Linked DNA regions of Homo sapiens. The protein of the gene in region 2 purifies or fractionates together with the protein of the main gene of each other region. This does not show direct contact. Each region holds a gene or a part of one and is shown on either strand. Other genes may lie near its edges. The genes, in order: COL14A1 and GIP.

Region 1 (7,524 bases), on a different chromosome or scaffold from region 2:
CAAATTAATGTAACTTTCTTGCAGCTTAAATAAACAAATTTAGATCACCAAGTGAAATCAAAGCCAAGTGTATTTGCACAACTCAAGAATGATGTGAATGGATTAGAATCTCTCATAGTGTATACTTCGCCATTTATACACAAACTTTGAGAGTCTTCTGAGTGACATGGTATTTAACTTTGTTTCCAAGGGCCAAATACTAAAATGTATAGAATATCCTACTCTATACTCACTATTAAATGTCATGGACTAGGAAATCTGAGACACAGAATAAGAAGCAACTGATTACACACCCTAGTCATTTAAGTTGGAAGAGTTCTCTTAGGTGACTCTGGGTCAGGCCATCTTGATGAGCCTTAGACAAGTTTTCCTTCCCATAAATCCTGCTTTCTCAGGCAGAATCATATACCATAACTGAAAGGAAATGGCTGCTGATTATCTGCTCATTATCTTCTTTCATTCCCTGCAAAGACACCAAAAAAACTGATTTGTTTAGAACCGCCCCCCGCCCCTGCCCCACCCCACCAAAGGCACACAAGTAGATTGTTTGAATCCTTCAGATGAAGTCTGAAGATGAATCATCTGAAGAATCCTTCAGATGAAGATGAAAGGAGATCTTTCATCTCCAAAGATCAGGAGATTATGAGAAGGACAGAAAGAGAACCTGGTGATCAGACAGACACCATCCTTCGTGTTAGCCTTTTCCTGATCCAGAAAGAATCCAGCTTCTAGTTGTAAATGATCCCATCCCTACTTTCTAAAGTTAGCTGTTACTAGGGAGATGTTACAGAGAAGGAGCACGTATTAAATTTATGGTTCTCTTTTGTTTCTATTTCAACTAGCACATAATAGAATTCAAATCTTTCTCAAATACCTAGATTTTTCCTTTGTGAGCAAAAGACAAAGTATGGTTTAAGGGTTAGAGTCTATTAGATTCAACCTCATTTCTGCTCTGCCTTCTAGGGGTTTTTAGGCTTTCCTCAATATCAGAAGATAGGTGGGCTCCTCAGTCAACTATTGATAAACATTTATTTAGCAGAGGTCATGCATTTGCAGGGTCTTTGCTGCCTGCTAGATTATAAATGAACAATAAAATGTCGCTAATCTCTTAGTCCCAAGTTAACTGCTTCTTCTGTTTTCTACTGCACTCAGAATGAATGAATGAGTGAGTGAGTAAACGAATGAATGAAAGTTTGAATGCTTACCTAAAGGAAGACAACTGTTGTCTTTCTGGTGGACACTCAGTTAAGACTACAAAAGCTTAAGGTGATACTTAGAAATGCAGGAAAAAGAATCCACATACATTGTTTTAAAGTTTTATTTGCTTACAAAAGAAAATGGAAATAGGTTTGCGAAAACTTATCTGCATGTACAAAGTAATCCCCGTAGATAAGGAGAGGCAACCCCTGGAACACACTGCTGGATAAATCGTTCATTAAAATTATATCTCTTTGCATCAGAGCTGGTGGAAAATCATTATTTCACATGAGTTAAAACCACTGAAAAACTAAATCTGTTTCTTAAACTACCAAATTCAGAAAGCTTAAATCCAAATGCTGATTTTTGGATACACATGAAACCAGTTACCAAGTGATCTCAGAGTTGGACAGATCAATTAAACAAGAGGTAGTTTCTCCAATATTGTCCCTTTTTTTCTTATCAGCAAGGTTATTCCTACAGCAAGTAGGAGTAAGTGACATATTCTTTGAACCTCTTTGAATTCTTTTCCTGCTAGGGACATATTTCCCTCAAACACAATCATATCTGTTTGTTCATTTTAGGACTTGAGAGAGAAGATTCCAGAGTTCAATTTATTTTTCCCAATTCCTCTTTGAGCTCTCTTCTCTGGAAAAACAAATTATCTGACATGCCATTAAGACACCAAAGGGAAATCATTGCTACCATGTCATAGATTAAGGGAACTTTTTAAAAATATATATTTTTTGTTAATAATAATAATAATATTAACATTATCCAAGGAGGAGATTTAGGCTGCTGAAATGAGCCCTGCCCCCCAAAAGTAGCATACAAACCACATAACAACATTTTCTCAAACAAGATTCCTTAAGAGTTCTTGCAGTTGGTCTTCAAATTTCTCCTGAGGCTATCAGACTCCAGGGCCCCACAGTTCCATGGCTTCCAGCTCATCTTGGACAGGGGTGAACTCTGGCTGATCTGGATGGGGAGCTAAAGAGGAAAAGTGGGGGTGGGGACTTGCTGCACCCAGGAATCATAAATTGATATTCTCCCCTCACCTGGGTCCTTAGAGACACAGAGATATCCTGCTGGGTAAAAAGCAGTGGATGTCTTAATCCACCACGCCCCTTGTACCTTCCCCATAAGGTTTCAGACAGTTAGTAAATAGACGAAGGGAAAGATACATTACAGAAATTGTTAGAAAACTAGAATCATAACCAACCATTTAAATATTATGTTTTATTTACAGAAGAAACCCTGAAAACTCAGCAAAATTATAAAAGAAATAGAAATTTTTTTAAAAAATCTCATGTTAGAAGTCCATCACCAGGGAAGAGCAGGGAGGGGAGGTGATCAGGGGAGGAAGGGAGAGTAGGGTGGTCAAGGAGAAAGATGCCCATCCATCCTGTGTGGGGAGAGGAAGGAGGAAGAGGCACAGTTAAGTAACTTTATTATGAAGCTGTCACACAGGGGAGTCTGGGATAAATTCTTGGCACACGATCATATACCTCTATCCAGGCTGACATGGAGCAGTCAGTGTCTATTAAAATAGACATATATGATTTGGTTAAGTTCCGATGTTATCACTCCATCATGTTTGGAGCAGAGTGGGCAAGAGGTTTGAAAGTGGGAAGGCAGGGATGCAGAAGAAGCAGGGAAGCAGAGTGTCCATTGTTAGGGGCAGGGGCTTGGTGGTGGTGGTGGTTGACAGGACAGTTCTGTATCCACAGCTAAATGTCTGGGGCCAATGGAACCAGAGTGGAGGATTTCCACTTCAGTGCTGGTAATCATTGTAGGGGATCAGATCTTAATAAGGATAGGAGTATTTGAGAGAACAGGGAGGGAAAAGATGAACAGAGAAAAACACATCAGCAAAACTTTGTTGACCAATTCCTGTGATAACTAAGGTTAAATTTCTACTGAAGCAGAAAATTTTAAACCCATTAACTAGTAAGTTCATGGCCCCACAGCAGTCCCTCAGCCTCTCCCTTGATGCTTCCAAGAGTGACTATGTCAGAAAAGGGGCCATTGCACAGCACGCCAGCATGCACACTGCAGATGTTTTAGGAAGCATATTCTTTTAGTCCAGTAGCTAGTGATAAGACAAGGACAGCATGATTTTTGTTTCCTCTCACAACTATTCTTGGTCACCTAAAATGTGGTGCTTAAATGCACCTAAATGCAAGTGGTATGCATGATTTCATTGAAAATAATCTAAGGAGCCCTCTTAATTACGGGAGAAGTTCTAAGTTTGACATTTCCCCAAACCAAGAGTAAAATTTTATGGGACGTCTTGGCCACATCACAGCTGTCACATAAGAATGGAGACTCCAAAAGAATGTTCAACCATGTCCTCCAAATGTGCTAAATACAAAGTCAGAGGCCAAGTCTATGTAGGTCATCACTGGGAAGCAAGGAAGACTTAGATGTGCTGTTATTTTGAATTTGCTCTTAAGGTTTTTAAGGGAGTAGCCTCTATAGCAATTTGCACTTTATAGAAAATGTCTCGGGATAATTTAAGGAAGTGAGGCATTCAAGCTCTGCTTCCCATTCATAACCAATTTAACTTTTTTCATAGCACTATCTTCCCATTTTGGTACTAAGCATACTAAAACATTGATCAAAGCCCACAAGCGGGGCTTTTTGTGACACTTACCTCTCACACCATAGGCAGAACATGATGAGGGGTCACAATATCCAGGCTGGCCAGAAGGACCTTGGGGTCCAGGAACCCCCAGATGACCTGGTGGGCCTCTTGGTCCAGGAGAGCCAGGGGGCCCAGGGCTGCCAGGCCGACTCTCCCCTGAAGGTCCTAAGAAGTACCCACAGATGAAAACCGTTGGTCTTTTGCCACAACAGGGTGAGTTTTGAGACAACCAAGAAGTAAACTAACTCTTAGAAGAAGCAACTTTTAGGACAATTAGGACAACCTCTTTCTACTCATTGAGTTCTTTTTTGTAGACTGGATTCCCTAGGCAGAGGGTCATAGTGTAATCACTTATCCTCCTGGAGGTCAATGCTCTCAATCAGCTCAGGAAACTGGCAAGCAAAATGCATCTTTTCTATTTCCTCTTGGATGTTAAAGGGAAAGGAACCTTCCATTATCAACCTTATTTTCTTTTTGGAGCTTTTGTTTCCCAATGCAGTTCCTTATGAATCCAATCTATGGGCGTGCACACACACAGACACAAACATGAACACACTCAGAGCTCAACCTCATCATCTAGTTAGAATAGCCATGCAATTCAGTACCAGTTTATGGCCCCAGATAATTAAAGCTCAACCTCATCAACAGTTAGAATAGCCATGTAATTCAGTACTGGTTTATGGCCCTAGATAATTAAAGTAAATTTGTATGAGTGTGAAATTGTCCTGGAGGGGACCAATGACAAGTTTGACATTCGACCCAATATACTAATCCAAAATTTCTTTAAGCTAGTTTACATTAATTGAGAATTCAGACTGAGTAAAAATAGGAGGATTAAAACTGTTGTGAATTGAAGAAATTTGTCAGCATGTTTTTTTTTTTTTTTTTGGCTTGTATGCTTGTTTTTAGGTCCGGGTTCCAACAGTGTTGAAAAGGCATTCTTCAACTATAATGGAATTTCTCAACTAGAACTGAAATGAAAAGTAGGAACAAGTATCACCTTCTATTTGAATAGCGTGGTGGCTCTCATATATTCAGCTCCTCAATCAGCACTCACCAACCACCCATTCTGTGTAATGTGTAATGTTATATCAGTTCCTCACATTGTCTCTAATAACAGAAATATTTACACTCAAAATGAATTGCATTAGGAACCTCTCTCAGAAAAAGTATTTTCCAAAATCCTTACTAGATTGGAAAGAAAAATCTGTAAAGCACTTTACTTAATGTGGCTAAGACTGACATTATAAATATATATTATAATAAGATTGCAAATTATAATAATTCTAATATCAAGCCTGATCATCTGGAGACCATTCTAAAAGCATATAATACACAAAACTCAAAACTTTTACAGAACTCATTCAGTAAGATTACCATGGCAGGAAATACTAGTGCTCACCAAATAGCCCTGTATTTCTCTAAATTTTGTGTCTGCCTTGCAGTTCAGTTGGGGCTAGGTGATTAGTTCCAGACAATAAAATGTGAATGGAAGTGACATCTCATTCTGTTTAGGAAGTTGAGACCGGTGTGCCTTCTTTTTTTTTTTTCGAGACAGGGTCTCCCTCTGTCACCCAGGCTGGAGGGCAGTGGCACCATCACGGTTCACTGTAGCCTCAACCTCCAGAGCTCATGTGATCCTCTGTTTCAGCCTCTCAAGTAGCTGGGACTACAAGCACATGCCACCACGCCTGGTTAAATTTTTGTATTTTTTTTTTTTTGGTAGAAATGGGGTTTCGTCACATTGCCCAGGCTGGTCTCAAACTCTTGGCCTCAAGTGATCCTCTTGCCTCAGCTTCCCAAAACGCTGGGCTTACAGGAGTGAGCCACCGCACCCAGCCCGATGTGCCTTCTTTTTCTTTCTCTTGGAGGCTACATGATTCACCATGGAGGTCATGGGTTCTGAGATGGAAGAGAGCTACCTTATTCATATGAAACTTTGTGTGATTGTGAAATAAAGCTTTATTGTGTAAATCCACTAAGCATTTGGGATGTATTTGTTACTATAGCATAGTCTGTCCTATCGCAACTCACACAAACAATAAGATCCCAGAATATGCTCTAACTTTTTGGTCTTGTATATTGGGAGGATCCTTATTAACAAAGAAGCCTCCCAATAAAACAAGTAAGAAATACAGCCATTTAAGTTACATACTAGGATGTAAGATGACCATTTTCCTCACTTGCAATGCCAAGTGAATATAAAAATATACATTTGCAGTCTCTTGTTAGGAAGGAAGATTTACCTGCTGGTCCAGGGGGGCCTCTTGGACCTTGGGTTCCAACGCCTGGATTTCCTTTTTCTCCTTTGATACCAGTTAGACCTGTTTAAAATAATTTTTAAAAATGTTTAAAGTTCTTTTTAAAAGAAAATCTTGGTAGTTCCATTTTTCTGGAGTTCGAAAGTGCTTCTCTGATGAAGACAATTAAGTGGGTTCGTTTGGGGTTATGAGTACCATGGGACTTTTAAATTACATTCTGACATTGGTAGTATATGTAGAATCACATGTTGAAGTCTGGTTCTGTATTTGAGTGTGTGGTCTGTATTTGCTATTCTGCCAGTCTCTCTTTCTCCTTCCTACTGAAGTCACACAGCCTGCCAAGAACTGGTCCTTGTCTTTGCACGCACCAGGCCACTGGACTTATGCAGCTGGCACTCCACAAGTAACACAATAGAAATCACAAGTGAACACGTCTAACATTTTCCTTTTGGTCCACTCTGTAATGTGTCTGCAAAAGGCATGAATTGTAATTAGGCAGCAACATTCTGAAGAGCGTGAGTTTCCATTAAAACTTGGAAGCTTCAGAAAAGCCTGTGTTTGATTTGGCTGATTCAGCCCCATAAAAATCTAAATCTATTCATGTTTCTTTTCCATGGAGCAGACCTCTTATAATTTACAGTGCTATTAACAAACTATACATTTTCACAGGCAAACAACAAAGAAACATATACTCTGACACCTCATTATCTAAACAGGTCCTATCACAAGATCACTTGAAAGGTGAGAGCGCCTATATTGAGGCCCAAGATACGGTTGCATTAGACTGGGGTCTGGGTTACCCTGGCTTACATCATAGAAGATCTTTGCTGTCTGTTTTTTTGTGTACAACAATGCTTTGAAATAGCAGCATGCAGAACAGCATCTCTGTTTAATTATACCTACTGAGAAATTATGTTGAATTGGCAAAGCCTAGAAGGAAACATCAATAAGTGAAAAATGGCCAATTTGACAGGTAGCAGGCATGGAAAGGCCTTGCAATTTTTTAAAATTGCAAATAACTATTTGTTTACTTTAAATATAATGCATATTCACTGTCAACAAATTAGATGTAACAAGCAAGATGCTAGCACTTGAAAATAATCACTTTTAACATCTTAGTTTATAACTTCCAGAAAGAAAAGTGTTGATGTAGTATTTGTTCTGGAAATCACTGGTAAAGAAGACTCCGGTGAGGAACTAACAGGTTTTGGTTTTTTGTTTTTACACTGCACATATAATGGTTGTTCCTAACCTGCAGCTTTGGTATCTTTTGTGCTCCCCGTAATGATCTCTTGCAGTCAAGACATAGCCTGGCATCTCTTTTAAAAAGCTCTTCTTCTTTACTAGGAGTCATCCAGGTTGGTCTACTCATTGCTAGAATTCCCAAACACCCAATCCTATTGCATGTCACCTTGATGG
Region 2 (7,000 bases):
GACTTAGCATAAACTTTATTGGTTTGGGTTCTCTTGGCTATTCTGGAGTGGGGCTGAGGCAGGTGCTAAGTGAAGGGCAGAATCCAGTCCTGAGCTGGGTGTGGTCAGAGTCACCGAGACCTGGGGAGAGTGGGGAAAGGAGAAGAAGGTTGTTATGGACTTGGAGTCGGCCAAGCACATTTATCCTGGGACCCAACCATTGTTGAACCCCTCCTACCTTCAAATCACCTTTTTAAATATTTTAATTTTTATCAATTTACTTTTTTTTTTTTTTTTGAGACGGAGTCTCGCTCTGTCGCCCAGGCTGGAGTGCAGTGGCGCGATCTCGGCTCACCGCAAGCTCCACCTCCTGGGTTCACGCCATTCTCCTGCCTCAGCCTCCCGAGTAGCTGGGACTACAGGCGCCCGCCTCCACGCCCAGCTAATTTTTTGTATTTTTAATAGAGACAGGGTTTCACTGTGTTAGCCAGGATGGTCTCGATCTCCTGACCTCATGATCCACCCTCCTCGGCCTCCCAAAGTCCTGGGATTACAGGCATGAGCCACCATACCCGGCCTCATTTTACTTATTTTTTAAGAGACAGTCTCACTGTGGTGCCCAAGCTGGAGTGCAGTGACTGTTTACAGATGTGATCATAGATCACTGCAGTCTTGAACTCCTGGCCTCAAGCAATGCTCCCACCTTTGCCTCATCAAATCACCATTTTAATGATAAGTAATCAAAATAATTCACAATATCCACCTTCTTACGGAGATTTTCTTACACCCTCTTCTCCATGGATCTGCTCACACTCCTGTCCCTTCTTCCCCTCCTGAGGTTCCTGTCCCAGATTTGCTCCCTCAATCCCTCCCTAGCTGCTCAGCATCAATGTCTGAAGTGTTTTGGTTTCCGTGCCTCTGTGTCTGCATCATGAGGGTCCTGTCTCACCCTTTAGGTGGACAGGTGTCTTCATAATATTTAGTGCCTCGATTCTGGGACATAAGGAATGGACTGAAGAATTTTCTAGCTGATGAGGGGGATTCAAGAGACCATTGAAGCCAGCAGTGGCCACAGAGGAAGGAAACATGCCTCTAACTATGTAGTTTCCCATCACCAGGAAGGTGCCATGGCCCAAGGGTACAGAGGGAAAGCTGAGAACAGGATGGGCTCAGCTCTGTGTGTAGGGACAGGCAGGACACAGGATGGGCTCAGCTCGGTGGGTAGGGACAGGCGGGACACAGGATGGGCTCAGCTCGGTGGGTAGGGACAGGCAGGCCACAGGATGGGCTCAGCTCTGTGTGTAGGGACAGGCAGGCCACAGGATGGGCTCAGCTCGGTGGGTAGGGACAGGCAGGCCACAGGATGGGCTCAGCTCGGTGGGTAGGGACAGGCGGGACACAGGATGGGCTCAGCTCGGTGGGTAGGGACAGGCAGGCCACAGGATGGGCTCAGCTCGGTGGGTAGGGACAGGCGGGCCACAGGATGGGCTCAGCTCTGTGTGTAGGGACAGGCGGGACACAGGATGGGCTCAGCTCGGTGGGTAGGGACAGGCGGGACACAGGATGGGCTCAGCTCGGTGGGTAGGGACAGGCAGGCCACAGGATGGGCTCAGCTCGGTGGGTAGGGACAGGCGGGACATAGGATGGGCTCAGCTCTGTGTGTAGGGACAGGCAGGCCACAGGATGGGCTCAGCTCGGTGGGTAGGGACAGGCGGGACACAGGATGGGCTCAGCTCTGTGTGTAGGGACAGGCGGGACACAGGATGGGCTCAGCTCGGTGGGTAGGGACAGGCGGGACACAGGATGGGCTCAGCTCTGTGTGTAGGGACAGGCAGGCCACAGGATGGGCTCAGCTCTGTGTGTAGGGACAGGCGGGACACAGGATGGGCTCAGCTCGGTGGGTAGGGACAGGCGGGGCATAGGATGGGCTCTGGGTGGGTAGAGACAGGCAGGTAGGGATAGGCAGGGGAGAGCATCACCTCGCCTGGAAGAGTGAGGAAGAAGAACAAATAGTAATCAGAGCTACTAACCTTGCTGAGCTCTTATTACTCCTCAAAGATGGCCCTCAGGTCTCCACTTGAATTGTCTTTTTTTTCTTTTGTTTTTTTTCTTTGTATTTTTCCACTTGCATTCTCTTACTTAAAGCTGACAACAATCCTGTGAAATGATTCTATACCTCTGATTTTAGTGAAAACACTGAGGTTCAGAAAGGCTATGTAATCAGCCAGCATGTGGAGGGGCAAAGATCTGAATCCATGTCTGATGCCCAAGCTCAAGTTAGAACCGCTGTGCAACACCACACTCCCCTACCTGAGCCTGCAGAGGTTTGTCTGATCCAGCAAGCAGGCCAACAGCTCTTGAATCAGCAAGTCCCGCAGCAAATCTTCATCGCTGGGGTTCTTGGCTGGGGAGCTGCAAGGGAACAGTCTCTGGCTAACTATTTTAGCCTGAGCTTCGCCCAGAGAGGGTAAACACAGGGTTGGGGACACCACTGAGGGGCAGCCGCGGATGGGGGGAGGGAGCCGACACAGCTATCTCTCCGTTGGCTCAGCTCTGAGATCTGGAGCCTCCTTTCTGCCAGCCCCACCCAGCGCTGCCTGCCTGGGGAATATGGACTCTTCATACAGGGAGAGTCAAACAGAATTCTGGTATGAGATATTCTGCCCATCCACCTCTGCCAGTGTTCCAGAATGCAGAGAGTACTTTGGGCACATTCACTCTTTGAAATGACCTGTGCCATTCAGAGAGGGGATAACTGATTTCAGGGGAGTGGGCCTGGGAAGATCCCCCGCTCTTTCACAAACAGTCTTCCCGAGGTTTGGCAGGGAGAGGTGGTGAGGCCAGGACCTGAGGTCTCTTCTTTCCTGCCCTTCTCCTGACTCAGTGACTGTGCTGTGCATGCAGTCATCAATATTAGAAACCCTGTCCCTGAAACCCCTCCTAGCACCCCTCCCGTTTCTCCAAGGCTTCTTCCTTAAGCTTGGGCTGACCTCCAGGAGTTTGCTCAATGAAGACCCCTCTTTGAACTCTGAGAGGAAGAGGATGCTTATCTCAGGTCCTTGCTCTGCTCTGGGGTCAGGGAGAGGGAACAAAGAGGTGGGGGCGGGGCAGGAGGCTTGGCTCCCTCCCTTCCCTCTGCGCCCTGACTCACCTCTGTGGCTCCACTGCCTCCTCCTCCTTCCTATTAGCTTGACTGGCCAGCTCCAGCGCCCGAGCCTCCCTCTGGGTGATGTTGTGTTTCCAGCTGGGAAGATAAAGATTAGAGAGTGGGCAAGCTGCGGAGACTCCAGTCTAGGGACACTTGAATCTTTTAATATCTGAACCCCAAAAGCAGAGGGTACCTTTTTCCACTCAACCCCACCTAACAGTGGTCTTCAGCTGCCTCCACCAGTGAACAGCTTTTCAGAATCTACCGTGCTGACCAGAGAGGGCGGGGAAAGAGACTTGGCATAGAGCAGGGAGAAGGACGAGGACAGTTAATCTTCTCTTCATTTTTTTTGGTGTGTGTGTGAGAGACAGGGTCTGGCTGTATTGCCCAGGCTGGAGTGCAGGGGCACCATCTCAGCTCACTGCAACCTCTGCCTCCCAGGCTGAAGCCATCTTCCCATCTCAGCCTCCCGAGTAGCTGAAACTACAGGCAGGCATCACCACACCCAGCTGATTTTTGTACTTTTTGTTTGCCATGTTGCCCAGGCTGTTCTCGAATGAACTCGTGAGCTCAAACAATCCACCTACCTGGGCCTCCCAAAGTGCTGGGATTACAGGTGTGAGCCACCATGAACAGCCAATCCTATTTTCTTTCCTTTTTCTTTGAGACGGAGTCTCGCTCTGTTGCCAGGCTGGGGTGCAGTGGTGCAATCTCAGCTCACTGCAACGTCCGCCTCCAGGGTTCAAGCAATTCTCATGCCTCAGCCTCCCGAGTAGCTGGAATTACAGGCACGTGCCACCACACCCAGCTAATCTTTGTATTTTTAGTAGAGACGGGATTTCACCATGTTGGCCAGGAGGGCCTCAAGCTCCTGACCTCGTGATTTGCCCGCCTCAGCCTCCCAAAGTGCTGGGATTACAGGTGTGAGCTACTGGGCCTGGCCCTAGCCAATCCTGTTTTCAAAGTCTAAAGTGGCCACCGCCAAGCAAGCAGTCATTAGAAGGAGCTCGTCTCTCCCTTGCTTCATCCTCAGACCCCTGGGGATCCTCTCTGAGCTCCCATACATCTTCTGACTCCTCCCCTTTGAAGTAAAGGATTAGGGCCAACACAGTGGCTCACACTTGTAATCCCAGCACTTTGGGAGGCCGAGGAGGGCAGATCACGAGGTCAGGAGATCGAGACCATCCAGGCCAACACGGTGAAGCCCCGTCTCTACTAAAAAAATGCAAAAAAATTATCCGTGCATGGTGGCGGGCACCTGTAGTCCCAGCTACTCAGGAGGCTGAGGCAGGAGAATGACGTGAACCCGGGAGGCGGAGCTTGCAGTGAGCCAAGATTGTGCCACTGCACTCCAGCCTGGGTGACAGAGCAAAAAAAATCCGTCTCAAAAAAAAAGAAGTAAAGGATTAGGGAATAGCCCTGGTCCCTACCCCTAGCCTAGACTGGTGCCCAAGTCAGGGTCCTGGCCAGAGCTACCATGTCTGACTCCCCATCCTTGCCTGGTGAAAGGTGCCACCCAGGCTGGGTGTGGTGGCTCACACCTGTAATCCCAGCACTTTGGGAGGCCAAGGCAGGTGGATCACCTGAGGTCAGGAGTTCGAGACCTGCCTGACCAACATGGAACCCCGTCTCTACTAAAAATACAAAATTAGGCCAGGCGCAGTGGCTTATGCCTGTAATCCCAGCACTTTGGGAGGCTGAGGTGGGCGGATCACGAGGTCAGGAGTTTGAGAACCAGACTGGTCAACATGGTGAAACCCTGTCTCTACTGAAAAAAAAAAAAAAAATTAGCCAGGTATGGTGGCGCGTACCTGTAGTCCCAGCTACTCAGGAGGCTGAGGCAGAAGAATCGCTTGAACCCAGGAGGTGGAAGTTGCAGTGAGCCAAGATCGAGCCACTGCACTCCAGCCTGGGCAACAGAGCTAGACTTCGTCTCAAAAGAACAACAAAAAAATACAAAATTAGCCAGGCGTGGTGGCACATGCCTGTAATCCTAGCTACTCGGGAGGCTGAGGCAGGAGAATCGCTTGAATCCAGGAGGTGGAGGGTGGAGGTTGTAGTGAGCAAAGATTGCGCCATTGCACTCCAGCCTGGGCAACAAGAGCAAAACTCTGTCTCAAAAAAAAAAAAAAAAAAAAAAGAGAGAGAGAGGCGGGGTATGGTGGCTCACGCCTGTAATCCCAGCACTTGGGAGGCCGAGGCAGGTGGATCACGAGGTCAGATCGAGACCATCCTAGCTAACACGGTGAAACCCCGTATCTACTGAAAATACAAAAAAAAAAAAAAATTAGCCGGGCATGGTGGCAGTTGCCTGTAGTCCCAGCTACTCAGGAGGCTGAGGCAGGAGAATGGCGTGAACCCGGGAGGCGGAGCTTGCAGTGAGCCGAGATCGCGCCACTGCACTCCAGCCTGGGCGAAAGAGTGAGACTCCATCTCAAAAAAAAAAAAAAAAAAGAAAAGAAAAAGAAAGGTGCCACCTGGGGTTGTGCATCATGTGGCCTGTGTGGCCACAGCCGGTGGCCTCCTCTGAAGGTAGGAAGGCAGAGCCCGGCACAGGGAACAGGAGGAGTGTAAGCAGCGACTCACTCATTCTTCTTCCCCTTTTGGGCCAGCAGCCAGTTCACAAAGTCTTGTTGGTGAATCTTGTCCATGGCAATACTGTAGTCACTGATGAAAGTCCCTTCCGCGTACCTGGGGCCTCGAGGTTGAGGGCTGCTCACCTTAGCATGAGATCCAACAGGCAGGGAGGGGAGAGCGCTGGAAACAAGGGTGCGGAGAAGGGGCAGAGATGGGGGGAGAATCACAATGCTAGGGTAAATGACTGTCACTAACAGGAGGCAGACACTTGAAAACAAACCAGTCCGTTTTTATGGAGACTCCCTGTGGATCCACTCCCCCACCCCACCCCAGGCTTTATCCTCAGCTCCAGGGCCCACTTCCTGCAGCCTCAGTGTGTGTGGCTCTGGATTCTGGGCAAAAAGAGATCACGGGGCCAGGGGCGGTGGCTCATGCCTGTAATCCCAACACTTTGGGAGGCCAAGGCAGGCGGATCACCTGAGGTCGGGATCGAGACCAGCCTGACCAACATGGAGAAATCCCGTCTCTACTAATAATACAAAAATTAGCCAGGCGTTGGCAGGGCGTGGTGGCTTACGCCTGTAATCCCAGCACTTTGGGAGGCTGAGGCGGGCGGATTACAAGGTCAGGAGATCGAGACCATCCTGGCTAACACAGTGAAACCCCGTCTCTACTAAAAATACAAAAAATTAGCCAGGCATGGTGGTGGGCGCCTGTAGCCCCGGCTACTCGGGAGGCTGAGGCAGGAGAATGGCGTGAACCCGGGAGGCGGAGCTTGCAGTGAGCTGAGATTGCGCCAGTGCACTCCAGCCTGGGAGACAGAGCGAGACTCCGTCTCAAAAAAAAAAAAATTAGCCAGGCGTGGTGGCACATGCCTGTAATCCCAGCTACTCAGGAGGCTGAGGCAGGAGAATCACTTGAACCTGGGAGGTGGAGGTTGCAGTGAGCTGAAATCGTGCCATTGCACTCCAGCCTGGGGAACAAGAGCAAAACTTCGTCTCAATAAAAAAAAAAAAAAAAAAGGCTGGGTGCGGTGGCTCACGCCTGTAATCCCAGCACTCTGGGAGGCCAAGGTGGGTGGATCACAAAGTCAGGAGATTGAGACCATCCTGGCTAACATGGTGAAACCCCGTCTCTACTAAAAATACAAAAAAATTAGCCAGGCGTGGTGGCAGGCGCCTGTAGTCCCAGCTACTTGGGAGGCTGAGGCAGGAGAATGGCGTGAACCCAGGAGGCGCTGCTTGCAGTAATCGGAGATCGCGCCACTGCACTCCAGCCTAGGTGACAAAGGGAGAC

The links.
Region 1: the proteins of GIP (region 2) and COL14A1 purify together in Homo sapiens (affinity purification with mass spectrometry; 2 studies listed by BioGRID and IntAct, with this or other methods). This does not show direct contact.

The regions. Positions count from the first base shown.
Region 1 is NC_000008.11:120,365,815-120,373,338, reverse strand, and holds part of COL14A1 (collagen alpha-1(XIV) chain isoform 1 precursor), read right to left. Parts: intron 6,169-7,524; coding exon 6,091-6,168; intron 4,010-6,090; coding exon 3,854-4,009; intron 3,004-3,853; coding exon of another isoform or gene 2,972-3,003; exon of another isoform or gene 2,603-2,971; coding exon of another isoform or gene 2,505-2,602; exon of another isoform or gene 2,188-2,504; coding exon 2,108-2,187; 3' UTR 1-2,107. UniProt on the Homo sapiens protein: Plays an adhesive role by integrating collagen bundles. It is probably associated with the surface of interstitial collagen fibrils via COL1.
Region 2 is NC_000017.11:48,958,597-48,965,596, forward strand, and holds part of GIP (gastric inhibitory polypeptide preproprotein), read right to left. Parts: intron 5,885-7,000; coding exon 5,714-5,884; intron 3,224-5,713; coding exon 3,131-3,223; intron 2,392-3,130; coding exon 2,290-2,391; intron 121-2,289; coding exon 111-120; 3' UTR 1-110. UniProt on the Homo sapiens protein: Potent stimulator of insulin secretion and relatively poor inhibitor of gastric acid secretion.